2 separate regions of the Homo sapiens genome follow, and region 2 is linked to region 1. Evidence: fine-mapped expression QTL. Tissue or cell type: whole blood. Region 1 holds a variant in brackets; the other region holds the start of a gene. All regions are shown on one strand. Distances are from middle to middle.

Region 1 (16,069 bases):
AGTGTCTCACACCTGTAATCTCAGCACTTTGGGAGGCTGCAGTGGGAGGATCATTTGAGCCCAGGGGTTCAAGACTGGCCTGAGCAACATGGCAAGATCCCGCCTCTACAAAAAATTTTTAAAAATTAGCTGGGTGTGGTGGGGCATGCCTATAGTCCCAGCTACTTGGGGGGCTGAGGGGGGAGGATCACTTGAACCTGGGAGGTTGAGGCTGCAGTGAGCAGTGATCGCACCACTGCACTCCAGCCTGGGTGACAGAGCAAGACCCTGTCTCAAAAAAAAAAAAAAAAAGAAAAAAAAAAAAACCCAAAAAATCCAAAACAACTAATTGGTAATATTTATGCCAAGTTATTATTTTATACTTTCATCTAGTTAGTCTTTGTACATACAGGAATTCAGATGCAAATAATATGCCTGTAATGCCTTTTTACATACAGGAATTTAGAAACAAATAATATACCTTTTTTTTTTGAGACAGAGTCTCACTCTGTTGCCCAGGCTGGAGTGCAGTGGTGCAACCTTGGCTGACTGCAACCTCTGCCTCCCAGGTTCAAGCGATTCTCGTGCCTCATCCTCCCAAGTAGTTGGGCCTATAGGCCTGCGCCACCATTAGGCTAGAGACGGGTTTCTCCATGTTAATCAGGCTGGTCTTGAACTTCTGGCCTGAAGTGATCCACCCATCTCATTCTCCCAAAGTGCTGCGATTACAGGCTTAAGCCACTGCACCTAACCTCTGATATAACTTTTTTTTTTTTTGGGACAGAATCTCGCACTGTCACCCAGGCTGGAGTGCAGTGGTGTGATCTTGGCTCACTGCGACCTCCGCCTCCCAGGTTCAAGCGATTCTCCTGCCTCAGCCTCCCCAGTAGCTGGGATTACAGGCACCCACCACCATGCCCGGATAATTTTTTGTATTTTTAGTAAAGACTGGGTTTCACTATGTTGGCTAGGGTGGTCTCAAACTCCTGACCTCGTGATCCACCTGCCTTGGCCTTCCAAAGTGCTGGGATTACAGGCATGAGCCATCACGCCCCGCCTGACATAACTTTTTACAAGACAATTTTTTGGGAACAAAAATCTCAAGTTTAAAAAAAATTTTTTTAAATCATTTAACAAAGTAATTTTATAGTGGATTTGTAGAGGAACACATATTGTATTTCTATTATTATCTTTTTCATTTGCTTAGAAGCCATAGATTGTAATACATTTAAATTTAAAATGTAAAGGGTTGCCGAGCACAGTGGCTCACACCTGTAATCCCAGCACTTTGGGAGGCCGAGGCAGGCAGATCACTCGAGGTCAGGAGTTCGAGAGCAGCCTGGCCATCATGGTGAAACCCCATCTCTAATAAAAATACAAAAAAAAAAAAAATTAGCTGGGCGTGGTGGTGGGTGCCTGTAATCCCAGCTACTTAAGAGGCTGAGGCATGAGAATCGCTTGAATTCGGGATGTGGAGGTTGCAGTGAGAAGAGATCGTGCCACTGCACTCCAGCCTGAGAGACCAAGAGAGACTCTGTCTCAAAATAAATAAAATAAAATAAGATAAAATAAAATAAAATAAAAATGTAAGGAGGAGTAACCTGAACTCTACTTTCAAACAGTCATATGGCTTGTGTCATTTTGAACACAATCTATGTGAAAAAAAAACTTCTGCTATGATGTTTGTGCTGTTAAGCTCTGCCACTAGGAGGCAACACCATTCACAGACATGTTACACATAGGACAAGGTTTCTAACAATCTTTTTGCGGTGGGTGAAAAATTCCACGGTGGGAAATACAGTGATTTCAGATAATTAAGTAAATGTGTAAAGGAGTATATACAGCAATCTAATGTCTATCAGTTGAGATTGGGTTAAATAAATCATGGTATAGCCTAACAAAGGAATACTATGAAGCCACTGAAAAGGATAACGTATCAACACTCTGAGATGAAATGCTCAATAATTTACTGCTATCTGAAATAAACAAGTTATAAGACACATTCACATGTTCTGTTTATGTTAAGTTACATGGCAATTTTTGAATGCAGAGAATACTCTAGAAAACACTGACCAAAATGTAACAGCTCCAGAAATTAGGACTTGGGAGTTCAGCCTTCTTATTTTAATTAAAAAAATTTAAACTGTTCACTCAAACAGATTCTGACAGAAACTTCTTTTTAAAAATATTTTAGGCTGGGTGCAGTGGCTCACGCCTGTAGTCCCAGAACTTTGGGAGGCCGAGGTGGGTGGATCACTTAAGGCCAGGAGTTCGAGGCCAGCCTGACCAACATGGTAAAACCCCATCTCTACTAAAAATAGAAAAATTAGCCAGGTGTGGTGGCACAGGCCTGTAATCCCAGCTACTTGAGAGGCTGAGCAGGAGAATTGCTTGAACCTAGGAGGCGGAGGTTGTAGTGAGCAGAGATCACGCCACTGCACTCCAGCCTGGGTGACCAAGTGAGACTCTCTCTCAAAAATAAACAAACAAACAAATAAATAAATAAATTTTAATCTCCTTTCCATTTTACTTGAACTTTTCATAATCAAACCTGAATTCCTTTTGAAAATTGTTAAAAAAAAAAAGTACTAACCTTTTTCTGGTCTACTACATTTAGACACTCATGATAAAATCACAAAAATGCAAGGATTTTAATTACATTTTAACATTAAACTTACAAAATACTGGTTAGGAGTATAGCATTAAAATGAATTGACATAATTTCTAAAAACTACTTACAAGTTGGTAAAGCCTCCCACGATGAAAACGGACTTGGAATCAAAAAAGGAGAAATGAGACAGTGTCTTACACAGGGAAAGTGTTTAATGAATGATTAGTCTGGTTTTCAGAAAATAAATATGAAATGTATTAAAAAACTGCTTAAATGAAGGTATGCTTGTATGTCATAATTAGGGTTTGAATGGCTATAACAATGGGCCCACATCAACAAGAGGCAAATTAACATAGATAAATGCAAAGTCTTACTTGGAGGTTTAAGAAATGATATACACAATTAGAGAATAATGAAGCCCTGGCATAACAGTAAAGGAAATTTTTTGTTTGTTTTTTTGATATGGGGTCTTTCTCTGTTCCCCAGGCTGGAGTACAGTGGCATGATTAGTTTTGAACTATAATAAGTAGAAATTTGTAGGTTTCTTCAGATGGGCAAGAGTCTCACTGAAAACTGCTGGTAAGACAGACCTTATCTGGAGCATGTGTCCACGTATCTTTAGTGGAGGCAGTGAGGGAACACTTTAGGAGTGACATTGACAAGCTACTCCTTTACTTGGATCTTACCTTAACCGCAAGACCTTCAACTACTTTACACTTTAAAAAAGCAAACTTTCTCTCTCACCCCGGTACTCTCTGTATCTACCTTACCCTACGTTTTCTTCATAGCACTTATCATCTGACACAATACATTTACAAATGTGCGCGCGCGCGCGCGCGCACACACACACACACACACACACACACACTTATTGTTTGTCTCCTCTACATTAGCATGTGGGCTTCATGAGATCAGAGACACTGATTTTTTCATTGCTGTTCTCTCCAGTGCCTGGCACAGCTGGCACTCAAAATGCCAACTATATAAAACAATGAACGAAAGTCTGTACTGGAATATCTCTCCAGTTCTCACCAAATACGAGATTTCTTGAAATGCTATCATAAAACCCAGAGTAGAAACTCCATGTTTTTCCCACTTTTCACTTTATATATAATAGCTGTAGTTCTCTGACACCATTGATACTTTTTTCCTTTTTGTTATAGGATTTCTGGGGCCAATACTCACATATTATAAAGGACTCTTTTATACTACGATTCCTTTTTCCTGAATGTATATTTTTCACACATTTAGGATTTTATTAAAGTGGAACACTCAGTAACCTGAGAATAATTTTTTTTTTTTTAAACAGATGTGGTCTTGCTATGTTGCCCAGGCTGATCTCAAACTCCTGGTCTCAAGTAATCCTCCTGCCTTGGTATCCCAAAGTGCTAGAATTACAGGCATGAGCCACTGCGAAGAATAACTTGTCATTCATAATCGTTCTCGTCTTTGAAAGAAGCATAATTCCAATCTAACTGAGTAGTTACTATAGTACTTGTTGATACAGAAGCTTTTATACTGGAAAAAGCCCCATCCATGCCCTCCCATATAAATGTCTTTTTTTTTTTTGAGACAGAGTCTCACTCTGTCCCCCAGGCTGCAGTACAATGGAGCAATCTTGGCTCACTGTAAACTCCACCTCCTGGGTTCAAGCAATTCTCCAGCCTCAGCCTCCTGAGTAGCTGGGATTACAAGTGCCCACCACCACACCTGGCTAATTTTTGTATTTTTAGTAGAGACAGGGTTTCACCATGTTGGCTAGGCTGATCTCCAGCTCCTGACCTCATGATCCACCTGCCTCGGCCTCCCAAAGTGCTGGGATTGCAGGCATGAGCCACCACTCCTGGCTGATACAAATGTCAAGAGTAAGAAACTTCTACATTTATCTGCATGAAGGTCCGAAGTATCTAGAGTAACACCAGAACTCCATACATAAGCATCAATGATACCACTGATATTTAAAAAGTTACCAATTGAGTTAACTTTCTGGAATTATCATATCTTAAATTTAAGATAATTATTTAAGTGGATTTAAGCGTTAAATATGAATGGGGAAAAGAAACACTTGGTTGGATTTGCATCCAAAAAAAAAACCATATATACGAATGGGGAAATATTAGCATACAATTAAAATTCTGAAAATGTATATAGGTACCACCATAAACATGAAAAAAGGTTAAAAAGAAATTTAGGTATGTAAGCATTAGAAGATCCCTTCTAAAACTAACTATAATAGTGATTTATCACTGTGGTGAAGGGTTCAGGCACAACTAACACTGACTGTCCTGTACAACTATCTACATTATCCCTTTCTTCATAATCTCTTTATATTGACTCTTTTTGCTACATTCTAAGCCACTGACATCATGGATGTGCTACATTAATTTTTTCTGCAGTAATGTGCAAATAAAATTATGTTTAAAAGCTTTTGACTTAGAAATATAGTAGGAGGCAACTATAACCCTCTAAACATTCCTCTTACCCGAAACAGCCACTTTAACACAGGGACAGGACACTGGACATAGTGATAAGCAGACGTAAGGAAACCTTGTGTTGTCAAAAAAATCTGATCTGTTTTTCCCGATCTGAAAAAATAAAGTAAAATCAACATGGCTATTAACTTCATGGCAAAATACTTCTACTATCACCACCAACACATCTGACATAATCAGAGAAATGAGCAAGCAAACTGTCTTCAGTCCATAGAGGTGGACTCTATACCAATATGGATGAGTTACTCATAAAATAAATTTAATTGATGGCCTAAAGCTGATCCAATCTGTTGGCTAGGCTCCACATTTAACTGGCAGACAAAGCTACATTTGCTGGTAGTGTTGAGAAAGAGCCTATCAAGTCTCAGACTGGGGAAGTACTTTAAAAAATTGGCAGCAGAACTGATGTGATCTCTCTAGAGCTGAGATATCATGCACTGAGAGAAATTAGATCAGTTTGGGCACTGTGGTGGAGATTACTAGTTGCACATCCCAGCATCTATTTTTGCCTTTCTTCTTGGTAACTGAACCCTGATCTGTAGCTGCAAACACTGGCTGCCTGAAATAAACATCACTCTCTGGCTTCCCTTGTGGCCAAGTGTGGTCATATTGACTAAGTTTTCTATTCAACTAACTTAGTGTGTGGGAATGCTGTGTGGAATTTCTGGGAATTTGAACTAAAGGCTGGAGCTAGAACAGCACCCGAAGCTAGGTGCTAAGAATGGTGGAGAAGAAAGATTATATGGTAAAACTGGCACTCCAGCCCTGGACTTCCTGCTTTTATACTTCTTTCAAATATACTTCTTGTTTAAACCACTATTATTTTGACAATCACTGTTATTATACACTGATCTTAATCATAATTAATAAAGGCATGAGATGTGTCAAACAACTATCCTACACTGCTTCCTATAATTAAAGAAGAAAACATAAAGATCAATAGTAATAAGAGGATTAGGAAACTTAATAGGTCATAATAGAAATTAACCTTTTAGAAGATTACGTGAGTCAGAAGTGTTTTAGAGTAATTTTTTATACATATAAAAGTAAAATGTCTATTTTTCTACTTACTTAAGAATAAGTTTTTCTACAGCACTTTGTCCAATAAAACCAGAGTCTCTTAAATCCAAGGTATACTGATTGAAAATTTTTCCAGAATTGAGGAAATTAAATATTTCTTCACCTGGATGATGATCAGGAATAGCATCAATTGTAACTGAAAATTTCTTTAGAAATTCCCTGAAACATAAAAAAAGTCAATCAATACCAAATTGTTACACTACATATAGTTTTGTATTTAAAAGCTGGGTGCAAAGAAAACCATTTTTTAAGCCAATGTTAATCCCAAATTAGAAGACTAGCATGAGAAAAGTATGCTTTGCTTCTTCCACTTTTTGTAGTTGTTAGTCAAAAGCCACTAAATGTGTCTATGTGAAAAGAAACAATAACCAGGAGAAAAGATAAAAGATGAAACCTGGCCCTAACATTTGCCTTTCAAACCCATTACAGACAGAAACCTATCATAAATTATTCACTAACAGCCATCAATGGCCCATTTATTTTACAAAAACAAAACTAAAAAATGTAAAAACTTTAATAAGGTAAAATACATTATGAAAAATGCTATACTTGTGCTCTTCTAAGAGGCCATCCTCATCATCTGTACTGTCTTCTTCTCCAATTCTGATTGGGGATTTAATGCCTCGGCCTTGCCTTATGTCTTCTTGTAGTTGCTTCTGCAGTTCATCTAGCCTGAGAATTGGAAAGAATGTTATAACAGTTTACTCTAAAAATATTTTTAAAAAGTCTTTAGTTTATATCTAAAAGCAGCACAAAGAAAACCCTTATTAAGTACCCTGGTATATAACAAATTTTGTTATACTATCGGTCAAATTATGTCTCCCAAATACATCACGACGTACAATTTTCATGAAAACAGATATATTTCAGGTGCTAGGCTTTTACCCAGTTACCAGTGTGGCATTAGAATAGTGTTCCACTGCATAAAAGACTTGAGGATTTCCATAAAGCTAGAACTTCAAGAATGATCTGTCCAAACCACTCACAGAATGGGAAAGGAAAAATGGCAAAGAATAAACATCACTAATTTGATTATCCTCTCTACTCTTTAAAGTTCACTGGGTTCTAGATGCCCAACAACCTGATAAGTTAACTAGGCTTTCTAGCAGCAGTAGTTGTCACTGTCATCATCATCACAACACCTAACATTTACCGAGCACTTAATATGTGACAGGCACTGCACTAAGGGCTTTATATATTAACTCTTTTAACCCTTACAACAACTCCATGTAGTAGTTTATAACGCATTTTATAGATAAGAAAACCAACATTAGAAAAGCAAAGTAACTTGCAAGAGCTTGTAATGCAAGGATGTGGGATTCATAGCGAGAGAGTCTAGCTCTAGAGTCCTTGCTTATACTGCCTCTCCAAGATTAAGTTATTTTAAACAAGGTCCTTACCCCAGCCACAAACAGTGGATAAGTACAGCTGAGGAGTAAATAACTAGTAAATGTACTGTTCTATCATTATAGAAAAGGGTCAATCATTCAATTAAACTAGTACTACTGTCTTTCATTTGTGAAGTGCTCAATTTTAAAGGAGGAACTTCAGATTTCATATCACAGATCACAAGAATTCATGAAATATTTAAAGAATTTTAAATACAGACAAGTTCTCTAATTAAATTCAGAAAGGGGGAAGCTTTTGAACTACTAATCATCTGAAAAATTCCTAAAGTTAGCTACTTGGTTATCAAGTTTGAGATATGTAGCACATACCAACTTCCATGTAATCAAGTCAGCTGAGCTGTTAGTGAAGTTCTCCAGGCTAGGTTCAAGGACACTCCTTGAATTAACAAGGAATATATTTTTCCCCTCTTATTAGCAAAACCTGTCCATAATTAGTCACATAAATTTCATTAAGATCATTATGATCCTCAACTTTTCTCTCTCTCTCTCTCTCTCTCTCTGTCTCTCTCTCGTGTGTGTGTGTGTGTGTGTGTGGGGGGGGGGGGGGGTGTTCATCATAATTCTAAACTTTTTCCTCAAAAGAGTAACTTGATAGAAATATTTCAGAAAATTCTACCTGTGTGAACCGCCCCACCCACCAAACAAGCCAATTAAAAACAGGCAAAGAATCTGAAAAGACATTTCTCCATTTGTATAACAAATGGCCAATAAGCACATGAAAATATGTTAACATCATTAGTCATTAGGGAAGGCAAACCAAACAATAAGGAGATACCACTTTACTGTTAGGATGGCTATTATCAAAACAAACAAAAAACAAAGATAAAATAATGTGTTGGCAAAGATGTGGAGAAACTGGAACCCTTATTAATTGTTGGTGCAAATGTGCAATGGTGCAGCCATTGTGGAAAACAGTGTGGCGGTTCCTCAAAAAATTAAACGGAATTACCATATAATCCAGTAAGTCCACTTACGTGTATATGCCCAACAGAATCTAAAGGAGAGACTTGAAGAGATATTTGTATACCCATGTTCATAGCAGCATTATTCACAGTAGCCAAAAAGTGGAAGCAATCCAAAGGTCCACTGACAGATGACTAAAGAAAATGTGTTATATACATAATACAATGGAATAATCAGCTTTATAAAGAACGGAAATTCTGACACATGCTACTATATGAATGAACTCTGAAGACACTGCCCTGAATGAAATAAACAGTCGTAAAAGGACAAATATAATACCACTTACATGAGATAACTAAAACACAGTCAATTTCATAGAGACAAAGTAGAAGGGTAGTTGCTGAGGGTGGGAGGAAGAGGAAAATGGGGAGTTATTGTTTAAAGGGTATGGAGTTTCAGTTTGGAAAGATGAAAAAGTTCTGTAGCTAGATGGTGATAATGGTTGCACAACATATAAATTTACTTAATGCCACTGAACTGTACATGTAAAAATGGTTAAAATGGTAAATTTTATATGTATTTTCCATTAAAAAAACACAAAAAATTCTACCCATGCTTTCGATCTAGAATTTCAGCTATCAGATACTAGTTGTAATAAACAGAAAGGAATTTATATTATTAGTTAGTGCAGTATACTATAAAAACCTGGATCTTTTGATCCAGTCTATGAACAAGAGAACCCATCTTATTCCCTTTTTTTTTTTTTTGAGATGGAGTCTTGCTCTGTTGCCCAGGCTAGAGTGCAGTGGCGCAATCTCGGCTCACTGCCACCTC[C/T]GACTTCCGGGTTCACGCCATTCTCCTGCCTCAGCCTCCCCAGGAGCTGGGACTACAAGCGCCCGCCACGACACCCAGCTAATTTTTTTTTTTATTTTTTAGTAGAGATGGGGTTTCACCATGTTAGCCAGCATGGTCTCGATCTCCTGACCTCATGATCCACCTGCCTCGGCCTCCCAAAGTGCTGGGATTACAGGCGTGAGCCACTGCGCCTGGCCCCCCACTTTTTTTTTTTTTGAGACGGGGTCTTATTCTGTCACCCAGATTGGAGTGCAGTGGCTCAATCACAGCTCACTACAGCCTTGACCTCCTTGGGCTCAGGTGATCCTCCCAACCTCAGCCTGTTGAGTAGCTGGGACCATAGGTATGTGGCACCATGACTGGCTAATTTTTGTATTTTTTGTAGAGATGGGGTTTCACCATGTTGCCCAGGCTAGTCTCAAACTCCTGGGCTCAAGAGATTTGCCTGCTTTGGCCTCCTAAAGTACTGGATTACAGGCATGAGCCATCACACCTGGCCTCTTTTTTTCATTTGAGACTGGGTCTCACTCTGCCACCCAGGCTGCAGTGAAGTGGCGCCATCACGACTCACCGCAGCCTTGAACTCCTGGGCTCAAGTAATCTTGCCTGGGTCTCCCAAAGTGTTGTGATTACAGGCATGAGCCACTGCGTCCGGCCAACATATCTTATTCTAACACAGTTGACAACAGAGTCCAAAATGCACGCTAATTTCTCATGATTTTTTAAAAAAGGTAAATTAAAAGTAAGCCACACAAACAAGCAAAATGTTAAATTTAGCAAATTAATCTTTATGCTAACAAACCTTTGTGTGTCTTCCATTTCCTTCACTAGACGTTCTAAGGTATTTGTGTAAGTTCCAGGATGAACATGTCCCTAAAACAAGAACATTTAGAAATACTTTACCACATGTCTTAGTAGAAGAACTGGGATGTTTTAAGTAATTAAGGGTACGAAAGACTATTTTCTATTTCAATAATCTGGGCCAGGATAACACCTTTCTTAAAGGATAATTTTCACCATCATGCTTTAAATCTAGTATTTTGCACTGCAGACAATTTGATTTTACTACCTATTAGGAAAGGCAGTACTTATAAAACCCTGCTAACTTTGAGATGTGACTGCAAACACTCAAGGACTCTGTGGCTACCCTGTCTTTACTTTTAAATTCTATTTTAGTAGAATCAAACTACTAATTTTTAGGTGTTACCATGGAATATTAACACCTTCCCCACCAAATTTTACAGACATCTTAGAATTTAATTCAGCTTATTCCCAAGATAGAATGAAGCACTTTATAAATAAAATTGCACACCACAATCAACAACATTTCTACACTCTACCTTCATTTACAGATGTGGTCTCCAAAGCAGGGGGTGTGCAAGGTGATCCATTGGGGTGCAGGAAGAAAATAATAGAACTTCTATTTATATGGAACTTCTATAGAGACTCCAGTAGAACTTAGTCTATAGTAACTTCTACGTCACTTCTACAGGAAAATACTTATTTTTCTCTTCTTCTTCCTTTTAAATTCTGTTTTTGCATATGCTTTAGAAAGTACACAGTATTACAGTGGTACATATATATAATCTAAAGGTATACATATATGTTGGGGTACATGCTCAAAAATTGTTAAGTGTGTGTGATCAAAAGAGTTTGGAGACCACTGACTTACAGTAATAAAACTAAAGATATGGAAACTCATTTACCAAACAAGAATTATTCCATTTTCAGTACAAATATGAGTTATAATAAATACTAAATTTTAAAGTAAGTTCCGATAATCCACCCCTTTCACTAATTAATCATCTTTCCCTCTTCAAGTAAAGATAAACGTCACAGAACTACTTACTGTATAGTCTGATGACTGAGATCTAAGCCCCTTGGAAAGAGCAGGAGGCTTTCCTGTAGCTGCAGGAGTCTGATTGAAGTTCAAAGCCATTATTTCTTCCAGTGACTTTAATGTTTCCTCTTCCTCATCACTGTCTAGGTTGTAACCTAAACTTTCTTCATCACTATCAAAATCACCCCTTAGTTTTCTTTTCAGTGCACTGCTACCTGCATTGGAATTTCCTGAACTCTCTCCTTCTGAAGGGGCTTTATCTGAAGGTGCTGCAGGGCTTGGGATACATGGCACAACTTCCAAAGCAGCAGGGGGAGACTTTGTAGGAGTGCCATATTCTGAGCGCAAAGGTCCCCCAGAAATTTTCCCTGAAGATACATTAGAATCGGCCTTATTAGTCTTTGCTTTGTGTTCCTTGTGTTTGGTGGATTCTGTAGAATGCCCAGAACATTCTTTAGATGAGGAACGCTCTTTATCTTTTTTAGAAACTGGAAGAGCACAATTTTTAGCATTTAATGGTACTAGAGAGGAACCAGCACTTGGAACACGGGAAAGTAAAGGTAGTTTTGTCTCCTTCTCCTTTGTCGTGGAGCTAGCGGTTTTATTTTTCTGAAGGTTGCTAGCTTTTTTAATTGCAGACTTTTCCTGAGATAAAGGTAAGTGGGGTTTCTGCATCTTAGTCTCCTTGGTACCTGCCACTTGGATTTGGTCACTATTCCTGGTAGAATGGTGGCCAGAATTGCCAGAATTTGAAGGTGCCAAGCCTGCAGAAGAGCCATCAGTTTCATCACTCGGTTCCTTGGATATATCTTCTAAGCGCAACACATCACCAGGTGTCTTCAGTGCAATATGTTTTATAAATTTTTCTTTCTGATGTGGTCCATCAGGACGCTTCTCAAGGAAGGACTCTCTTGCTTTTGGTATCATAGATTCTCTTGTGCTTTTCAGATCTGAGTCCACAGAGTTCCTTTTTCTTTTTTCAGGGAATTTATTCTGCTTAGAGCCTGCTAAAATTTAATTTTTGTTAGATTAGTGAAAAATATACTTTCCAACTTTAGTAAAGTTTATTCAGTGTCTAGAACACCCTAATGAAAGGTTTAAAATTCTAAGTATTAAGGCTGAGATTAGTCACCATATATGGAATGCAGAAAAAGAGTTACTTATCAACTGGATAAATACTGGTGTCCAAGAAATTTAAAGCTAATGACAAATGCTCATTTTCATTCCAAAGCTATGAAAAGTTTACCACCTTAACAGAATTAAAGATGCCACTCCCTAAAACAAACAACTGCATATTTGTACCAAGTTAAGGATGCCATAGGTACTTCTGGAAATTCTTTTAGACCTAGGACTACCTGGTTGCAGAAATGTAACACTTCTACATTTAAATGTATAGTACCTTAAAACACGTATAGGATAAACACTTGAAGGCAGATAAATGTTAATTTCTCATTAAAAAAAAAAAAATCACGCTGTGTCCCAATGCAGTATGACTGGTGTACTTACAAAAGGTGTCTTTGTCTTTGGAGACAAAGACAGACATGCACAGAGGGAATACAAGGTGAAAATACACAAGGAAAAGATGCTATGTGACTGGAGTGATGCAGCTGTAAGTCAAGAAATGCCAAAGATTGCAGGCAAACACCAGAAGCTAGACGAGGTAAGGAAGTATTCTCCCCTAGAGTTGCCAGAGACATTACGGCCCTATTGATATCCTGATTTCAAACTTCTAGCTTCCAGAACTGTGAAACAATAATTCCTGTTGTTTTAAGCCACCCTGGTTTTGGCACTTTGTTATGGCAGCCCTAGGAAACTAATATAAGCTATATTTATTATAGCCCCATCCAGAAGTACTTTAATAACCACATACATTTGAATGAACCAGTTTTTAAAAATTCATATTGTGGGCTGAGTGCGGTGGGTCACACCTGTAATCCCAGCATTTTGGGAGGCCGGAGTGGGCAGATCACTTGAGGTCAGGAGTTTGAGACCAGCCTGGCCAACATGGTGAAACCCTGTCTCTACTGAAAATACAAAAATTAGCCAGGCATGGTGGTGCGTGCCTGTACTCCCAGCTACTTGGGAGGCCAAGACAGGAGAATCGCTTGAACCTGGGAGGTGGTGGTTGCACTGAGCCAAGACGGCACCACTGCACGCCAGTCTGGGCAACAGAGCAAGACTCCGTTTCAAAAAAAAAAAAAAAAATTCACTTTAACCTGGTGCAGTGGTGTGTGCCTATATAGTCCCAGCTACTCAGGAGGCTGAGGTGGGAAGATAACTTGAGCCCAGGAGTTCAAGACCAGCCTAGGTACCAAAGCAAGACTTCAACTCAAAAAAACAAAACAACAACAAAAAAAAACACAAAAAATTCACTATTTGTGCAATCAGTATTCCCCAAACCAGATTTCCCTAAATCAAATTTTCTGCACATGGACAGATGTCTCCATTCCCCAAGAGTTGCTTTAAAAACCTAAAATGGCTGGGCACAGTGGCTCATGCCTGTAATACCACAACTTTGGGAGGCCAAGGTGGGAGTTCGTGAGCTCAGGTGAAACCCTGCCTCTGCGAAAAGTACAACCCCGTCAATCCCTTCTCTAGTTAGAAAATTTCTTATCTTTTGGCCATGTCTAGTGGCTCATGCCTGTAATCCCAGCACTTTGGGAGGATCACTTGGGCTCAGGAGTTTGAGACCAGCCTAGGCAACATGGTGAAATAGTCTCTACAAAAAATACAAAAATTAGCCGGGTGCAGTGGCATGTGCCTGTAGTCCCACCTACTTGGAGGCTCAGGTGGGAGGACTGCTTGAGCCCCGTGAGGCTACAGTGAGCTGTAATTGTGCCATTGCACTCCAGCCTGGGCACCAGAGTAAGACCTTGAATCAAAATGAGTAAATAAAATAAAATAAACCCGCCAAAACCAAACTTGAGAGGCAATTATTATTTGGATAGCTTGATCAATATATAATCTGAAAAATTCAATTTATAAAAATTAAATTAACTAATTAACAAATGCCCTTATCTCTGCTCTTTTACAGATATCTCCCATTACCTGAGGAAATCATTCCATCCTATTCAGTTTTCTGGGGTTAAATGTCTTACAAAAAGGACAGGGGTAACAGGATGAGAAATTAAATGACTAAACAAAAGAGAAGATTTGGCTCATTATCTTACTTTTAAGTATGGGATTACAAAAAATGAGCTACAGAGCTGCCAGTTTGAGTTTTGTTCCATTTTTCTAGAGAAGTCAGATAATTTAAATATAGCTAGAAATGAGGAGAAATTCCTGCTTTGCTCAGGCATTATTCAGGGTTGATCCAGGAGGAGACAAACACTGTTTGTGGAAGATGTTTAGGATAAGTCAGCTTATTAAGGGGTTTCATCATCTAGAATTAGAGAAAAGTGAATTGGTACTGCAGGTAGGATCCCCTTTAGCAAGCTCTTCAGGTCAGGTGATTAATTGCAAAATGTTCATAATTCTTTTTGTATCCTTTGTCAGCCTGTAGAGAATATTTGTTTTACAGTTTTTCAAATATTTCAAATATACTAATACATAAAATATTCATATAAGAGAGAGATTGAGTTTGTAAAAAGAAAAAAAGGAGGCTGGGCATGGTGGCTCACGCCCGTAATCCCAGCACTTTGGGAGGCTGAGGCAGGAGGATTGCTTCAGCCCAGGAGTTCAGTGCTGCAAGTGAGCTACAATCTCACCACTGCACTCCAGCCTAGGAGACAGTGAGACTCCATCTCAAGAAAAAGGAAAAATCCAAAGGCCATTAATAGGTGATTGGTTATTAATCAGTTACGAAATGTACTAGCAATGGATTAAATTTCCCCTCACAATTCAGCCAAAAGACAGGGCTCTAGAAGACCAAAGGGCTAAATGCCTAGTCTAACATTACTTCTGAAATCCCTGAACTTGTATGTGATTAATGATTGCGTGATTATGTACATTACCATGACAATTGATTAAGTGTATTAACAAGATGAACAAGACATATCATTTGGATTTTTATTTTTATTTATTTATTTTTTTCGAGATTGAGTCCTGCTCTGACACCCAGGCTGGAGTGCAGTGGCACCATCTCAGCTCACTGCAACCTCCACCTTCCAGGTTCAAGCAATTTTCCTGCCTTGGCCTCCTGAGTAGCTGGGATTACAGGCTTGGGCACCATGCCCAGCTAATTTTTGTAATTTTAGTAGAGACGAGGTCTCACCATGTTGGCCAGGCTGGTCTCGAACTCCTGACCTCAGGTGATCCATCTGCCTTGGCCTCCCAAAGTGCTGGGATTACAGGCATGAACCACTGCGCCTGGCTTAGATTTTTAATAATTTTGCTATCAGACACAATAAGCATTCTTCATGCTATCTAGATTGAAATATCCCCTTGTCCTTTACATGTTGAAATTCTGTTGATGTTAGTCAATTGAAGTATAAATGTATATTTATTAAGAGTATAATGCTATAATTATTAGTGATTATGAAACACATGCAAAAATATTGGTAATAAAAATATAAGTGACGGCAACCATCATAAGTCAGCCTCTGAAAATATGTAGAAAGCATCTTTTCCAAGCAGTACTCAAAAACTTTGCTAGGTGGGATTATATAAATGAAACTACTTTAGCCACCATGAATGAAATTTGCAAATCCAGGAAATGAAAAGATTTTTTCAAATCTTAAGTCAGAGAAAAAAGAAAAGGAATAATGTGGTAGCCACACCACCAGCAGCAGCCCCTTATATAAAATAATATTTTGTTCTTCCATTAACTTTGGTGCAAGGTGATCATGTATTTAGTATTAAAAATGTGCAATACAGTGAGTGCAGAAGCAATCTCCTGGCTGAGAAATTCCTGTTCTTCTACAATAATGTCAAAATTCACTAAAATTTGGTCATAAAATCA
Region 2 (16,069 bases), 37 kb before region 1:
CTTTGCATCTCTGGGGAGGCTTCCCAGTGGATCTAGTGGAGGCAAAGGGAATAGGCTGATGCACTGACCCCAATACCTATTACTCATAGGACCAGGCAATAGGACCCCACAGAGTTGGGGAAATTGGGGTGGGGATCAATTTCAGGAGGAACACTGAATGCAAGGAACACCTGGGCTGGGAAGGGCAGTGCTGTCTGACCAGGGGGCTATGGAAGGCTGGCAGGGTTTTAAGGAAGTTGAGGTCCCAGGGAGCTGGATAAGCATAGAGACCCTCTGGGTGGTCCAGGTTCCAGGGCCTGACCTCTTTGTGAGCCCCATCTCCTATGTCGTTGGCACTGAGAGAGAACAGGGCACCTCGGGCTCCCACCAGCAGCCTTGCTGAGGCCTCCTCCAGCAGCAGTGTTGAGTAGTTCTGGGCTTGGCCCTTGAAGTGCCGGGTCCCAGAGAGCTCTGGGGAGAGCAGGAACAGTGAGCCCTAGTTCTGGGGTGCCTCCCCACCCCCAGCCCTGGCTTCTGCTGCCTTTTGAGGTTGAGGGTCTAACCTTCATAGGGTATGGTCATCCGAGGGGTGGCATCTAGTTCTCTAGACGGTCTCCGCAGTGAGGGTCCTGGGACTGCAGTTGCTGTGAGGATGCTGAGGAGGAGGGGCCAGAGCCTCCCCCACATCTTCCTGGGGAGGCCCAGACTAACAAGACCCCCAAAGGGAGCCAGAGTCACAGGTTGTGGGGGCGGGGAATGGGAAGCACAGTCACAGGGGTCAAAGTCCAAGGAAGTCACTTGGAAGGTCAGGGGTCATAAGGTCATAGGAGTCAAGGAATCATGGGGCCATGGGGGGTCCTGGAATCGGGGGGACATGGAGTCACAGGGTTGTGTGGCCATGGAATCCCCAGCTAAGAGGTCAGAAGGAGGGAGGGATCACATGCCTTTCTGCATCAAATGCAAACTCCATGGTGAGAGGGAGTTGTGAAGTTCTAGAGGGGTTGTAGGTTACTGATGGGGTCACCCTGCCCCCGACAGTAGAGCTAGTCCTGGTTTTCTGAGGTCCGTTTTCTGAAGAAAAAACGGGGAAAAAAAAGCCCTTTGATCTGTATGTGGGTGGAAGATGGATGGCGTTACCCAGACTTCAGGGGGCACTGAAAGAAGGAGGCCCAGCATCCACAGAACGCCCACGCCAGGATCGACTCACAATCATTCTGTCTATCGCTTTGCTCTGATGCAGGAGGCTGGGGTGGAACTTACCTTCCTTACAAGACCCTAGATGCCCACAACCCGAAACCCAAGGTCATGACCCTCTTCTGGCCAAGTCAGAAGCTCCACTAGGCCCTCAAGTCAAAGGAGCTGGGGTTCTTGGAGAGAATGCCTGCTTCTCCCAACAATGAGATGCAACTCGGTCAGCAGCTGCCCCTGCTGCCTGCGGGGGTGCCTTATGCAGGAGGGCCTAACCAGAGAGGTTTAATGGACCTTTGTTTATTTTGTCCTGCTTTCCCTTTGTTTTTTCTTTTCCCTGGCCTGAGAGCTCCCTCTGGAATTTCTCTTTAATTATAACTTCTTGGTATTCCTCTCCAAGGGGGTGCACATCTCTGCCCACGCCAGTCTGTATTGCACCCTCTGGCTAGGCATCCACACGTGTCCCTATCTGCAAGTAGGCATTCACAGGCATTGGGGTGGGTACCTAGGATCCCCCTGGTTGCACAGGTATAATGTCTGTGCAGAAGGCTGTAGTGTGCAAGGCCAGTTGAGACATAAGCAACGTGAAGAAGGTAAATGATGGGATCCCTGAGCCCTTGGCCCCTCCCGACACATCTTGGACCCTCCCTCAAGCCAACCAGTTGGGGATGGGATGGGGGTGGGTGGCAGGCCTCTCCCAACCCCTGTAACAGGCCTCCTAATCACCAAGGGGTTCCTTGAAGAGTTCCTGGGCTGGGTGAGGTGTGGAGAGACCTAATACATTCCATCTCATCAGCCACCCACAGGCAGGGCCAGAGGGTGCCACTGGTGCCTCCTCTCCCAGGTCAAATATTAACTATCTGGCCTTGGAAAGAGGGGAGGAATCAGGAACTGGCCAGAGGGATAACAGGAGCAATTATTCAAGAGGTAAAGGTCAGCACTGCAGGGGCAGAGCCCTGAGGGGTAGAGTCAAATATGAAAGGGAGAGAAGAGGATTCCCTGACCCTGAAAGGGCATAGGCTCCCTGTTTGGGATCTGGGACAGCAGGAAGCTTCAGGCAAGCCGGCCATGCCCCACCCCTCCCTGTGGAGGCACACCTGTTTACCTTTGGGACCTCCTATTTGCTCAGTGCAAAAGGCATGTGTGTGGGGAGCACTATGGCTAGGAGGAACATGCCCCAGGTTAGAGGAGCCACTCAGTGTGGTGCATGTCACACTTATAGTTTAAGAGTCACATGGGTGACTATTAGGAAGGTGATATACATGCACATGGGTGCACACACACACACACACACATGTTCACAAGGAGGACTGTGAACACGTGGATTCACAGGGGTCATTCACACATATACTCACAGGGAGTTTTGTGCACACATATGCTCATACAGAGGGCCACAGCCACAGGTAATCATACATATTCACATGTGACGTTGAATTTACATGCCCATCCATTCAGCAGGTCACACAGCCTCAGACATTGAGGAGAGATAAACCCACACATGTGGGTTTGTGTCAAGGACTGTGCACCTATTCAACAGGAGGGTCCTATACATACACATGTATGTGTAGGGACATGCACACAAACCCATTGATATAGTGGGCCAGGCAATCATGTTCACAGAAGGGTCAAGTACATGTGTGCTCACACGCAGTTCTTGAACACACAACTACATCCATGCAGAGACAAGCACACATGCATACAGGGGTCCAGTTTTTGCCATAGGCTTGGAGGCTGCCAGTGTCCACTGGGGTGAGATGCAGAGCAGAACCCTGCCTCTGTTCCTGAAAGTCCCAATTCTAAGGCCCAATTTCAAGTGTGTGTTTGTGTGTGGGGGTGGTGAGGGGGTTGTGTGTGTGTGTGTGTGTGGTGATGGGGGAGGCTTCTGACCTTGGATGGGCAGATGGGATGGGTGCATGAGTCAAGGCCGCTCTACAAGGGAGGGAATGGGAAAGTAACTCAGGCAGGAGGAGGCCCCTAGCTTCAGCAAAGATGGAATGGAACGCATAATTTAGTACTCCTCCACCCCTATGTATATTGCGGTTCTAAAGGTGGGAGACGGGCTGGAGCTCTCAGCCCCCACTTAACCTGTGGGAGGGGGCGGGGCTAAGTGGGCGGGGCGGAGCATATCACCCCTCCCTTCAGTGGCGAAGTACGGGTTTAAGGTCTCCAGTCCACGCCCCACACTCCACCCCAAGTTCCACAGTTCGGGTTCTTCCCCAGGGCCAGCCCCCTGAACTCTGATCACCTTTCCTCTATTAGATCTTGGGGTGGAGGGAACTGGGGAGGAGAGACCCTTCAAACAGGATCAATGGAGGATCAGCAGGCTCTCGACCTTCATCCCAGATGTCCACCTGCCTAGTGTAGGCGGTATTTCCCTCTGCCTAGTAGGATGGCGGTCTCTCCTGGCTTGAGAGAGCCCCTCCCCCGGGACCCCCTCCCTCCAACATCCTGGACAGTCCGCGGTCCTCTCCCTTCGTCAGGTCTAACCTCAGTCTCTACTGCTGCAGCTCGAGGACAAGCTCTCCTTCGATCCCGCCGGACGCCGGGAGACGTGACCCAGATCCTGGGGAACACTGTTCGCCACGCGGCCCCCTCCCCGCGCTGGTCCCCGACTCCGTGGTGGCCGGTTTGCACCCCGCGCAGCCCGAGGCCTGGCCCGCGCCCCTCTAGAGCCGTCATGCAGGACCGGGGGACTTGGTGGTGAGAAAGGCCTGGCCCAGCTTGGAGGGTAGAATGGACGTGGGGGAGGCCTTGCCCGACCCCCGGCCCGCAGCCCCAGGCTCACGCCAGGGCGCCGCCCGCACTCCTCGCCTTGCTCACCTTTGCGCTCGGATCCGGGGCCATAGAGACAGCGACGCGCGGCTCCGCGGCCCCACAGCACCAGCTGCGAGAGGAAGGGGCCGCGGCTGGAGGCGGGGCGGGGGGGGGGTGGTGGAGGCGGAGCCGGGGGTGGGGCGGGGTCCTGAAAGGCGGGGCCGACTGGGTGGGGTGAGGGGAAGGTCGCCACTCTCTTCTTTGCGCCCCCTACTCTAGCACAATAGAGGCGGTTTGAGGGCGAGGCTCACACACAGCCTTCGGCCATCGGGCGACCCCCCACCTCTAGGCGCTGCGGCCCTGAAATCGCCCCCTGGTGGTGGCCTCGCCACCCCGTGCACCCTCCACATGCTTATAGCCCGTCCTCTCCTCCGCTGTAACCCTAGGACCCCCCTGACTTGCCTACTGCTGGGGACGTGCAAACCTGTCCTGGCGTTGCGGGGTTGGGGGACCCTCTCGGAGGGCCTTCTGGCCTGTCCTCTAACCTGGACCTCACTCCCTGTGCTCCTGCCACCCGCTTCTGCTCTCGGCCTAGGGTGTGGAGGGAAGGCTACCCTAGGTGGCGACTGGACGTTAGGGAAGCTCTGAACACAAGGTAGGGGCTTGATTCCCAGCTTCAGGGGCTGTTCAGCTTGAGCTATGCGTGGGGGAGATGGGGTCAGGCCTGAAGGGGATAAAGTAACAGCCTGACCTGAAAGGCACACAGAAAATGCTTTTTCTGGATAAATAAGCCACAAGCGTTTGCACCTGTTCACTCACCAAATCTTAACCCTAACCTAGGCTCACCTCAGGGACTGGGTCATTCAAACACTTGCCTTCCCCTCCAGCTCATCTTGGGCACCATTCTTATCCAGAACTTAGAGTGCACCCTTCTAGGCAATCAAGTACCCTATCCTTCCCAGATTCAATCACCTTACCCAGCAGCAATCTAGGAAACCCCTCACAATCAACTCCCCAACTCCTTTAACTCAACTAGGATGGTCCTTCTGTGCAAACTTGGTTCCTGCCTCCTTTAATAGGTCACAGCCTATTAAAGTGAACTTAGCCCCTATAGTCCAAACAAAACCTGCATTCAGGCCCTGACCCAGCCTGGTCCTTCCTCCTCCATCCATGACAGTATTCATGTGGGCTCAAGAGATGGACCAAAATGATAAAGGCCACAGGAACATATGTGATTGACTCTTGCATGTGCCTAGGAGTCAGAACAGGATTCAAGTGGCACATTTAACTAAAGGAAACTTGGGAAAGGCTTCATCCTTCTTTCTGGATTCCCCAAAGCTCACAGTTTGGCACTGAATCATATACAATCTCGTAGTTTGGATGGCTGTGTGTGACTGCAGACTGCTAGACAGCAGGGCCCACATCACAGTTCCACCTCCCCCAACACTCTGCAAATAGGATGTGTGTGGCGGGGAGAGGGAAGGTAGCTGGGGAGAAACACAATAAAAAATGTACACACACTTTTACAAAGAATATCCTGCTTCATTTTTTATTTGTACCCTCATCCCATCCTGAGGAATTTATAGCCCCATTTTATGGATGGGGAAACAGGCTCTAAGACATTAAGTAACTTGCCTTGAAGTTCATTCTTGTGTTTATGGAGAGGACAATCAAGACTGGAAAAGTCTGAGAAGGAGGAAGCAGGGTAAGCCAGAAGGGGAAATACCATTGGCAAAGGTAGAAATGTTCAAGCTTATGCACAGGCTTGTGTTGGGGAACTAAGGAAGGGGCATGAAAGAGGGCAGTGAGTTTGATTTGATGAAATGGCTGGGGGGGGGGGGGGGGCGGGGAGGGGTTCCTAGTGGGAAATAAAAGGGAAAAGTCAGCTAGTAGTTTGAAAAAGACCACAGAAGAAAATCCTGAAAGAGATGATGGACTGAGTAAGGACGTCTGAGGTGGGAAGACCAGTCAAGGCAGGGCTAAGAAAGATAAATCTGCAGTCCTTATCAAAAAGTGGGTTGGTGGTAACAGTGGAGGCAGGGTAGGAAGACTGCTGGTCCTTCAGTAGCAGATAGGAGAGCAATTAAACTGTAGGGGCCCAGGGGGCTAAGAGGCACAGCTTCCCAAATGTTCACAGAACCTGCAGTGCTGACTTCAGATAGCTCTGGAGGTGGCGAGTAGGCCAGTGTGGTAGGCTCAGTATCACTCAACTTCACTTTATGAACCAAGCTTTGCTCCTCTGAGGTGCTGATGGCAAACTCAGACATTGTTAAATGAGCAAAATGTGTGATTTCAATGATCACTGGGCAGTTACTTCAGTACTTTTGATAGCAGACCACAATCCATTTCCTTCTGCTAGCCTCCCAGTAAAATCTCTAAACCTAATGAGAGTATCAGATGTAAAAGCAATTAATGGAGCTGCCCATAGGAAGCCCTTTTGATTGACAGTATGTCTCTCTGCAAATCCAGCTGGTAAAATAAGAACGGGGGAATACTGACAGACAGTGGAAAAGAAAACTGGAAATCAACTAAAGAAATTAACCCTAACCCAGCCATAAATCTGCATCCTGGGACACAGGCAGGTCATTCTTTGAACAGGCTGTCACTCATCCATAAGGTCACTACCCTGGCTGCTTCGCAGGGTGGCTGTGAGAGGATTCCATTTGGAAACCTTCTGGAGAACTTCACACACACAGAAAAGTATGAGTTTTGTTTTTGCTAGTCTATTTTCCCCAACTTTGCTGTAAGAAAGTGGCTGAGGGTAGTGCTGGCCGTCTTCAGCAGTGATTGTCAGCCACTTACACACCAGAGTTTAGCTCCACTTTGCACAGAACAGTTACTTACTGTAGCAGGGATCCTAGGTGAAGGGGGTGGGTATGAATTCCTGAAACTTGAGCAGGTTCCCTGAAGCAAGAGAACTCTGGCCTAGTCAAGTTGTCCTGCTTACTGTTCAATGTGGCAGCATTTCTGTTCCTGCTTTGCCATCTCCATCTCTGGTTTGCCCAGCACTTTCCCTTTAGGTGGTGTGGTCTTTATTTTGGCTATATATACAGCTGAGGTGCTTCTTCTGTAGGGGCTGTCACCAGTGCAACAATGCGGAAGTCTCACTATTCCACTGTGCCTCAGAAGCCTGTTTAGTTTTCCTCCCAGCCAGTCGTCTTGGAGTCAGACCCAAAGCTGGGCCTTCTGGTTTGCCCTCTCTTGACTCCAGCCTAGGGAATGGTTAGTAAGGGAAAGGGAGTGTCAGGACATTCCCACAAATGCTGGAAAACCACCACCCATCACCAATTTCTCAGCTTTAGCATGCTGGCTTTTAAAAAGTGAAAATTTTAATTAAAAAAAATCAGCAGAGATAGCTGGACAGAGAAGCTCCAGCTCCCGGTATCCAAAGAAATAGGGCACACTTACAACTATAATTTTTGGAGATATGGTTTGCTCAGATGTCAGTACACCCTGAGGTGTCTGCTTAAGATCAAATCTGTCATCAGAGAAACGCCTCGTTAGAGCAGCAAGCATTTGCTGAGTTCTTGCTATATGCCAGGCACTGTACTAGGCACTTTTCATGCATTAGCTCGCTTAGTCCTCACAAACCCTGAGGTAGACACCATTATTCAACAGATGAGGAAACAGTGAGTTTAAGTAATTTGGCAAAGATCAAAAGGCTAGTATGATGAATCTGGGATCTGAGGTCAGGCCTTGGGGCAAGGTCAAGGCCCTTAACTTGCATAAAGCTGTGCTGCCTGCCCTCTAGTAAGTACTTACGGCAATGTCTCTGCTTCTTCCTGGGCTGTCATCCCCTCATCCCTCCGCCCCACTGTCAGAGAAAAATGCTCCCATTTAGTCTCTTTCTAGCCAGCCTGTCAGAAGGCAGAAATACTGGCATGGTTTTGGAACTCAAGGCCTCTGACAATGCCAAGGCCTTCTATGAGCTCCAAAGTTCCTCCTATGAGGTTTCAACCTCTGCCTCCCAAGTTGGCATACCCAGATCTCTATCTGCTTGGCAGGTTGGAGGTGATCTCAAGCCCTGCTTCTGCATTGTACAGCTTCTTCTTTCTTGGTCCTGGGCTCAAGAACAAGGGAGTCAGGTTAAGGGTATTTGTTTCTAATTCTCTTTGCCCAAGAACAGAAAGTATTTTAACCTGGATACCAGGAGGTAAGATTCATGAGTTCTCTATGTTGTTCACCATCAAATCCTTACTGAATCCTAAAAAGAGTGCCTAGTATGTAGTTGAGACTCAATTGTTAGAATGAATGGTGGAATGAACATAGTGAATGAGGTAAGAATGAGATTACTGAATTCCTGATTGCAAAGTATACAGCAATTAACTGGGTTATATAAAAGTGAACTGTGTACAATGGTGGCTTTATGTTTTCCAGAAACAGGAGACATCAAGCTAAAAAACTGGACAATCCAAAGCAAGAAGAAATGTTTAAAAGCCAGGGGACTGGGGTGGGCTGAGGGAACAGGGCATTCCAGATAACTTAGCCTCCCCAACTCCCAAACAAATATTACCAAACACATGTTCAAACTGAGAAAAAGCAGTTTTAATAGCACACACACACACACATTCATAGGACTTTAACAAGATGTAGTATAAAATCTTTAAAAAAAAAAAAAAGGAAAGAAAAAAATCTGTATTTACTTCCTAAGAGCTGGTGGATTAACTGGCTGACAGGACTGCCCAGGAAAAACAAATGCACAGATAATGAGGTGCGCCGACACTGTTCATGAGTAAGGAATAACCATGGATCATGCTAACTGCTCTACGTGCCCCGCCGCCTGGACCCTACTGTTGCCTCCTTAGCGACAAACCACCACAGTCATCCCCTAATTCTCCAACTCAGTAGCTTGTTTAATGGGCTACCTCTTAAAATTTTCATTTTTAATTTAAAAATTACTCTTGGCTTAAAGACGCCACACATTATTACTGGCCAGTCCCCACCAATTATATTTGTTTTGATAAAAATAAAAATGCAAATACTCCAACTAAGCCTGGATGATAACACGCCATTTTGTATCTTTTACATTTGAGGAGATTTTTGTGAAGCTGAAAGCAAGCTACTATTTGCGCTTGAAAGCAGAAACAAAATGCAAACCTTCCAAAAGGTGACAAAGGCACCACTGCCATCAGGAGATAGAAAATGTACAAATGCTGTTACTTTACGGCTACATCAATGCATTTTGTGCATGGAGAGCCTCTTAATGTGATAAAACTAGTAGAATTATATTTTCAGTAACAAGAAAAGCAGTTAGAAAAGGCAAACAGTTACACACAAAAGCATAAACACTTACAAGTACCTTAATGTGCAGCTTGCAAGAAGGGTAATAAGTTTGCCATACATATCCATAAAATTAGACAAGGTGATTTTTGGCACAGTAATATTGCCAAACACACCACCACTCAGTGCAAGCTTCGTTTGCCAAGTCCCCAAAGTGGCCTGACATTCTCTGTGCAATGAACATTTCTCCCTCTCTACCATCCCATTCACCGGGCAATAGCAGCAGGAGGGAGACAAAGCATGGGGACTCAAGGGAGAAGTAAAATACTTGATTTGGAAGAAAAACCATGGGCTACTTGTGCTAAAAGAGAGTCACAAAGTTTTCATGAGAACCCAAATGCAAATACTGACTGGACTATGACCTGGAGTCTGAAGACCTCTACCAGAGTCATAAATACAAGGGCCTAAACTGAGGTCTGGCCATTTATTTTAGAGGGACCATGAAGTATTTTTTTTCTAAAGGAGAAATATAATTAAAAATAGAGATTTTTTTCTTATTGGAACTGTTAAATAAAAATGTATCAAAGTGGTTTTAAATTTGATGGACAGTTATCTGTTGAAACTGCAATACAAAAGGGTCATTAAAAAAAAACCTGAATAACCCACTTGTCCCCCCCATCAATGTACACAATTAGAAAATATTTACACACTGTAAATTACAAGCAATATAAGCAGTATTTTATACTTTGAGATTTTGTACACTTTACACAATGCAAAATGAGAAAAATATGAACACGTATAAAATTACACACAAATAATGTATCTACAAAGGATTAAATTACAGAACGAAAGCCCCCATCGTTGGGCAGATAGATGCCAGAGTTTCAAGCTTCTGTCAAATAGAACTCTTTGTATCTATCTCTTTAACCATAAGTGGCATTTTGTAACAATACCCTTGAGAGGTAGTATCAAGATAATAATATTCTTACCAGTAAACAACACAGAATAAAACTTTTGTTGGTCTGACTCTTGGAGCCTCAATCAGTTTAGGTTCTTGGAAACTGGATTTACTTAGTCTTCCCTATAAAATCTCTGACTGCCAATGCTTGATTGACATGAGCTCAAAAGTTACTGATGCTATTTTAAATGATAAATTTAGGACAAAATGCTTTTTACTCCTAAGCCTCAATTTAGAGGTAGAAAGTTATTTTATTTTCTTGCCTCTCAAACCGCAAACATCAAGTCCAGTTTCTGTTCCCCTCCATCATCTTTCCCCCCCACAACTGGAGACACTAGAGCACTCAGGAGAACAGGTCACTCAAGCCAATACTGAAAGAACAACAAAAAAAGTTGGCATTCTTTCAGGAAACAAACCCTCCTAAAAGGGACATCTCGTCAACAAAATAATTTTCTAGTTGGCTAGTAAGAGTTTGTTACTACCCCTGGGCTAAAAACAACGTGTGCACTTCCACTAACCCTCTACCATTTAAACCAAAGGATGGCTCTCCAGTGTTTAAGAATTTACAGCAGCTGTGGTTTTGAAGTGCAACAACTTCAAGATACAAGCGCACACACACACACACACACACACACACATACACAGACACAGTGTCCCAAAGAATTCAGGTGTCTGCCAAAATTATATACTCATGGAAACAAGGTTGTTGGAAACTTGTCCAGATCTTTAGGCTTTTACAATATAGACTTCTGTAATATGGTTACCAAGAGCCAGAATTCTAAGATATAGCCAAGATTCTAAGATTTAACCAGTATTTAAAATACATGCATTTAAAAGAAATCCAGAACAAACAGCATATGAATGTTCTGGCATCAAAACAGGGCCACTACTTTACAGCTTAACCTCTTCCTCTTAAGGGGATCTGACAACATGCCAAACTTTTGTTTCTCAACTGTTTGTTTAGATGTATTTTAAAAACAGATTTATAATCTTGAGTAATGAAGGAAAATGCATGGATTGAAACCTCCCTGTGGTTTATAAAAGTTACAGAAGAGATTTATGCTTTTTATTACTAAACTCAGTTTTAAGCATTCCCTTTGTGTCCGAAAATAACCAAGAGGGAAAATTAAACCCAACTGGAACTTGGTCTTGCTTTCCATGTCCAACTTCTCAAGTTAGTCCAAGCTCTTTTCTTATATATTTCCTGTGATTATCCAAGTGACAAAAATACTATCTAAAAAAGATAACTGGCTTATAATTTAACAAGAGGAGTTAACTGGGGCAGGTTAGACATATGACTATTATTCTGCTTCTACCCCTCCCCTCTTTTAATAAGACTCTGCACTTTTGAAAGGTCAGTTGCCTTAACAATTAAGCAGATCATATTTCATATCTGCTTCAGAAATGGCAATTTCTTCATTACCAGCTTCATACTAGATATTCAAGTGGCACATTTGCTGTACATTTTCTTGGCATTCATTGGATTCTGTAATAATCCTTTCTACTCCTCTATGAAAGGCTCTTATTGAATTTCTCTTGGTTCATATTTTTGCTGCTGCAACTCCTATTAAGAATCTGGTACCCAGAAGTCATGAAGCTGCCCCTAAAAAAGGGAAGGAGAAAAAAGAGGGTAAAGCAAAATTTAATCATATTATGAATTAATCCTTATAAAACTACTAATCATCAGACAATGGGCTTTGATAAGACAAGTAATAAAATCTTTATATTGACTTCTCTGAAAATTTATGGTAATCAGATTCAAATTTCACATTCAGTAGTCAAACAACAAAAAACAGTAAAAAATAAGTGCAGGATGTTTTTCTCACCACTGCACACATGGAGGGGCTTAGTTAAGCAGATTAAATAATGTTAAGCTGATTAGTATAGTTTTGCTATTAAATTATTTTCTGTTTTAATACCACATCAGTACATGACCAGCATTAAAAGAAAATCTATTAAGGTTAGAAACAAATACAAAAACAACAAAACATAAATATAAGATTTCTCAAAGACTTAAAATAGAGAGATTGCTTTATCTACTTAACATTCAGTGTTCCTATTATTTTGATATAAAATATAAGCAACTTCTAGGCCCTGGCTACTCAAAGTTTAGTCCCTGAAGCAGCAGCATTGGCATCAATCTGATAACTTGCTAGAACTACAGAATATCAGCCAGGCGCGGTGGCTCATGCCTGTAATCCCAGCACTCTGGCAGGCCGAGGCGGGCGGATCACGAGGTCAGGAGATCCAGACCATCCTGGCTAACACGGTGAAACCTGTCTCTACTAAAAAATACAAAAAAATTAGCCAGGTGTGGTGGCAGGCGCCTGTAATCCCAGCTACTGAGGAGGCTGAGGCAGGAGAATGGCGTGAACCCAGGAGGCAGAGCTTGCAGTGAGCCGAGATTGCACCACTGCACTCCAGGCTGGGTGACAGAGCAAGACTCCGTCTCAAAAAAAAAAAAAAAAAAAAAAAAAAAAAGAAGTACAGAATATCTCAGTTCTCACTCCAGACCTATGAGTCAGAATCCATATTTCACCAAGTTCCTAGTTGATTCCTATGTACATTAAAATTTGAGAAGCGTCATTTTAGACAATCCTATGCCAGTTACTCTGTAAACAAGCAGGCTGGCACACTTACTAGCAGGTGTTAAAAAAAATGTCCCTCTTAGGCAAAGACTCCTTAGATATAACATCAAAAAAAAGTGTCAAAAATATATACATAATAAATAAAAATAAAGGAAAGGCAACACACAGAATGGAAGAAAATATTTACAAATTATATCTCTAATAAGGGATTTGTATCCAGAACATACAACTCAATAATAAAAAGACAAATAACTATATTCAAAAATAGGCTTTTTGAAATGAAGTATGGGATGAAAAAAATGGGCAAAGGATCTGAATAGACATTTCTGCAAAAAAGCTATACAAATGACCAATAGGCATATGAGAAGATGTTTAACACCATTAATCATTAGGGAAATGCAAACTAAAACCACAATGAGATTCTACTTCCCTACTCCCTACTATGGCTTTAGTAAAAACAAGTGTTGGTGAGAATATGGAGAAATTAGAAACCTCAGACATTCTGGTGGGAATATAAAATGATGCAGTCACTTTGGAAAACAGTCTGGTAGTTTCTTAAAACACTTAACATAGAATTACCATATGGCCCAGCAATTTGACTTCCTTTTCAAATGTTTCATTTGAGAACACATATTCACATAAAAACTTGCATACAAATGTTCATGGAAATATTATTTGTAATAGCCAGAATGTGAAAACAATACAAATGTCTGATAAGTAGATAAATAAATGTGACATATCCATACAGTGGAAAATTATTTGGCAATAGAAGGGATGTACATGCTATAACATGGATTCACTTATTATTATATTAACTGAAAACAGCCAATTACAAAAGATTACATAGTATATCTCATTTACCGATGTCCAGAATAGGGAAATGTATAGGGACAGAAAGTAGATTAGTGTTTGCCTAGGATTTGGGAGGAGTCAGGAGGGGAACCAAGGTAGTAGAGGAAAGGGGAATGAATGACTGCTAATGGGTATGGGATTTCTTTTTGGGGTGATGAAAATGTTCTAAAATTAGACTATGGTGATGTTATTCACTCTGTCAATGTAATAAAAACCACTGTACACGTTAAGTGGGTAAAATCTATGGTATGTGAATTCTATCTCAATAGATCTGTCTTAAAAATGCTCTTAATTGAATAACCTCCATTTGATGCAATGCAATATTTTTAAATGGGCTCAACCACTTCTGGAAATAAATTAATGAATATAAAGCAAACGAAAACTAAAAAAATTACAAACCATGTATTATACTGGCGTTTTCAGTTTATCTTAAGATAACTAGAAGCAAGTGCACTGTTATACCCTATTTTATTTCAAACAGTATGAAGAGTGCCATTCAGCAAAACTATTAAGAATACATGAAATTGTATAACAAAATGACACCTGAGTAGGCCGACAGTTCTGGATTATTTCCTGCCATTTTCCATGTATCCTGGCGACCAAGTCTTTCACCTTAAAAATATCAAAAACAGGAAAAGGGATCAGATTAAAACATTCTCACCTACAATCAGCTTAACACTACACAAAATATCTGACAGCTGCAACAGGCCCACACTCAACAACTCAATTTGATTTCTGTCAACAAAGAGAAAATAAACTACTCATCTTTTGAAGGAGATTTCAAATCATAGAAATTAATAAGACTCCCTTTATCATCATAATCTAAACTATTGAATGCTTATGATTTAATTTTCCTGTTATTGAAGATCATCCCCAAAAACACATTCTCTGCCTTCAAAGGAACTTAACTTTAACTCGCTGGCTTTTGAACAACCAGATAGAGAAGCTGAAGGGTGGTCTGTGTCAACAGGGCCCAAGGCTTTGGCTGTTCTGTGCCTTCCCTTCCCAGCTTCCCTTTGAAAGGATCAAAGCCATAAAAAAAACGTTTATTTGTCCCTCTCCACATTATTAGAAGATCCAAAATTCACTGTTACTCCTCTCCATGCTTGTGCCCAAGTACTACGAATCCCCTTTAAATACCTCGTATTTTCCTACATTTGGAGGTTTAGCAAGTGTCTGTGCACAACTGAAACTGTAACACAAAACCCAAACTCTATCACTCTAGAGATTCTCAATTAGCTATTGAACATAACTGCTTGAGAAACATGTTTTCAACAAGTCAGGAATTTTATAGCAGCTTTAAATTTATAAAGTAAACTACAATCTATGCTTTTTTCTTCATCTACAGTTCAAATTTCTCCAAAACAATCACCAACTTTTCTATAATAGAGGCTTTTGGAGAGGCAGGCAACTCATCTATTTCAGCAGGACCATCCCTTGAAGCAATTTCCACAGACCACTGTGTCGCTTTCCACTTTAAGTAAGAGAAGCACTGGCAACAATCTGTGCCAAGCCCTTGTCTTTAAGAAACATAAAACTTGGGTGGTCCCCTTTTAGCATGGCTGTCAGTAGTAGCCACTACCAAGTTCTACAGGCCAGCAATTCTGGTCAATGAATGCTCAAAAGAATGTGCTTCTGAAACTAGAGTTCTACTCTTGGGGAAAGAGCTATCCCCTACATGTATTTGAAAATCAGAAATCTGATAACTTCATTAGTTGCTTATTTTTGTATTTAACTTAAATTTACTAAAATAAATACATATGTTAAATCTGAATGGGCATTGTTCAAATGACTAACCTTTGCAGCTAATTAATGTAAGATATTAAGTTACAAAGCTGAGGCTTCACATTCAATGACTATCCAAAGACAAGAGGCAAAAAGAATCAGCATTGTATTACATTATCAAAGCTAAAAGATAATCTTGGAATAAAAAAATCTTTAGAAAAAAGTATGTTTATTTTATTTTGTTTTATTTATTATTATTATTTTTTGAGACAGAGTCTTGCTCTGTCGCCCAGGCTGGAGTGCAGTGTCGAGATCTCAGCTCACTGCAAGCTCTGCCTCCTGGGTTCAAGGGATTCTCCTTCCTCAGCCTCCTGAGTAGCTGAGACTACAGGCACGCACCACCACACCTGGCTCATTTTTGTATTTAGAAAAAAGTATTTTAAAAGTGTCTGATTTTATGTTTCAGGAAAAACTGTCAAATCATTCTATTAATACTAACATTATTTTCCTACTCCATACTCATATATTTGGCTTTTCTACTGTCTTTGAGTATATAAAACCTTTAAGAAAAAAAGCTTAGCAAGCTTAGTGCTGAAATCATTTCCACCCTAGAGCTCAGACTAGGTGTTGTACGACCCAAAGATTTGAAGACTCCTGGCTGGGTGTGGTGGCTCACACCTCTAATCCCAGCTCTTTGGGATGCCGAGGCAGGCAGATCACGAGGTCAGGAGTTCGAGACTAGCCTGGACAACACAGTGAAACCCCGTCTCTACTAAAAATACAAAAAAAAAAAAAAATTTGCCGG

What was found. PIP is the estimated chance that this variant, and not a neighbour inherited with it, causes the effect.
Region 2: it holds the start of SEMA4G, and the variant in region 1 is the best candidate, but not a certain one, in a credible set for the expression of SEMA4G in whole blood (TOPMed, PIP 0.72).

What each region holds. Positions count from the first base shown.
Region 1 is chr10:100,920,082-100,936,150 of GRCh38, reverse strand. SLF2 (SMC5/6 complex localization factor 2) reads right to left here. Exons shown (of 20, transcript NM_018121.4): 5 at 11,179-12,176; 6 at 10,132-10,202; 7 at 6,712-6,834; 8 at 6,154-6,321; 9 at 5,073-5,175. Among named protein-coding and RNA genes, the nearest start is that of SLF2, 15 kb to the right of the region's middle. The variant C/T (reference allele first, on the strand shown) is at 9,309.
Region 2 is chr10:100,957,510-100,973,578 of GRCh38, reverse strand. SEMA4G (semaphorin 4G) reads right to left here and starts at 4,075. Exons shown (of 15, transcript NM_017893.4): 1 at 3,988-4,075; 2 at 543-1,050; 3 at 302-450; 4 at 1-32. The coding sequence starts at 666. It overlaps SLF2 (SMC5/6 complex localization factor 2), which reads right to left. Exons shown (of 20, transcript NM_018121.4): 19 at 14,083-14,151; 20 at 8,445-11,702. The coding sequence ends at 11,667. RefSeq lists silencers at 4,059-4,118, 7,453-7,747.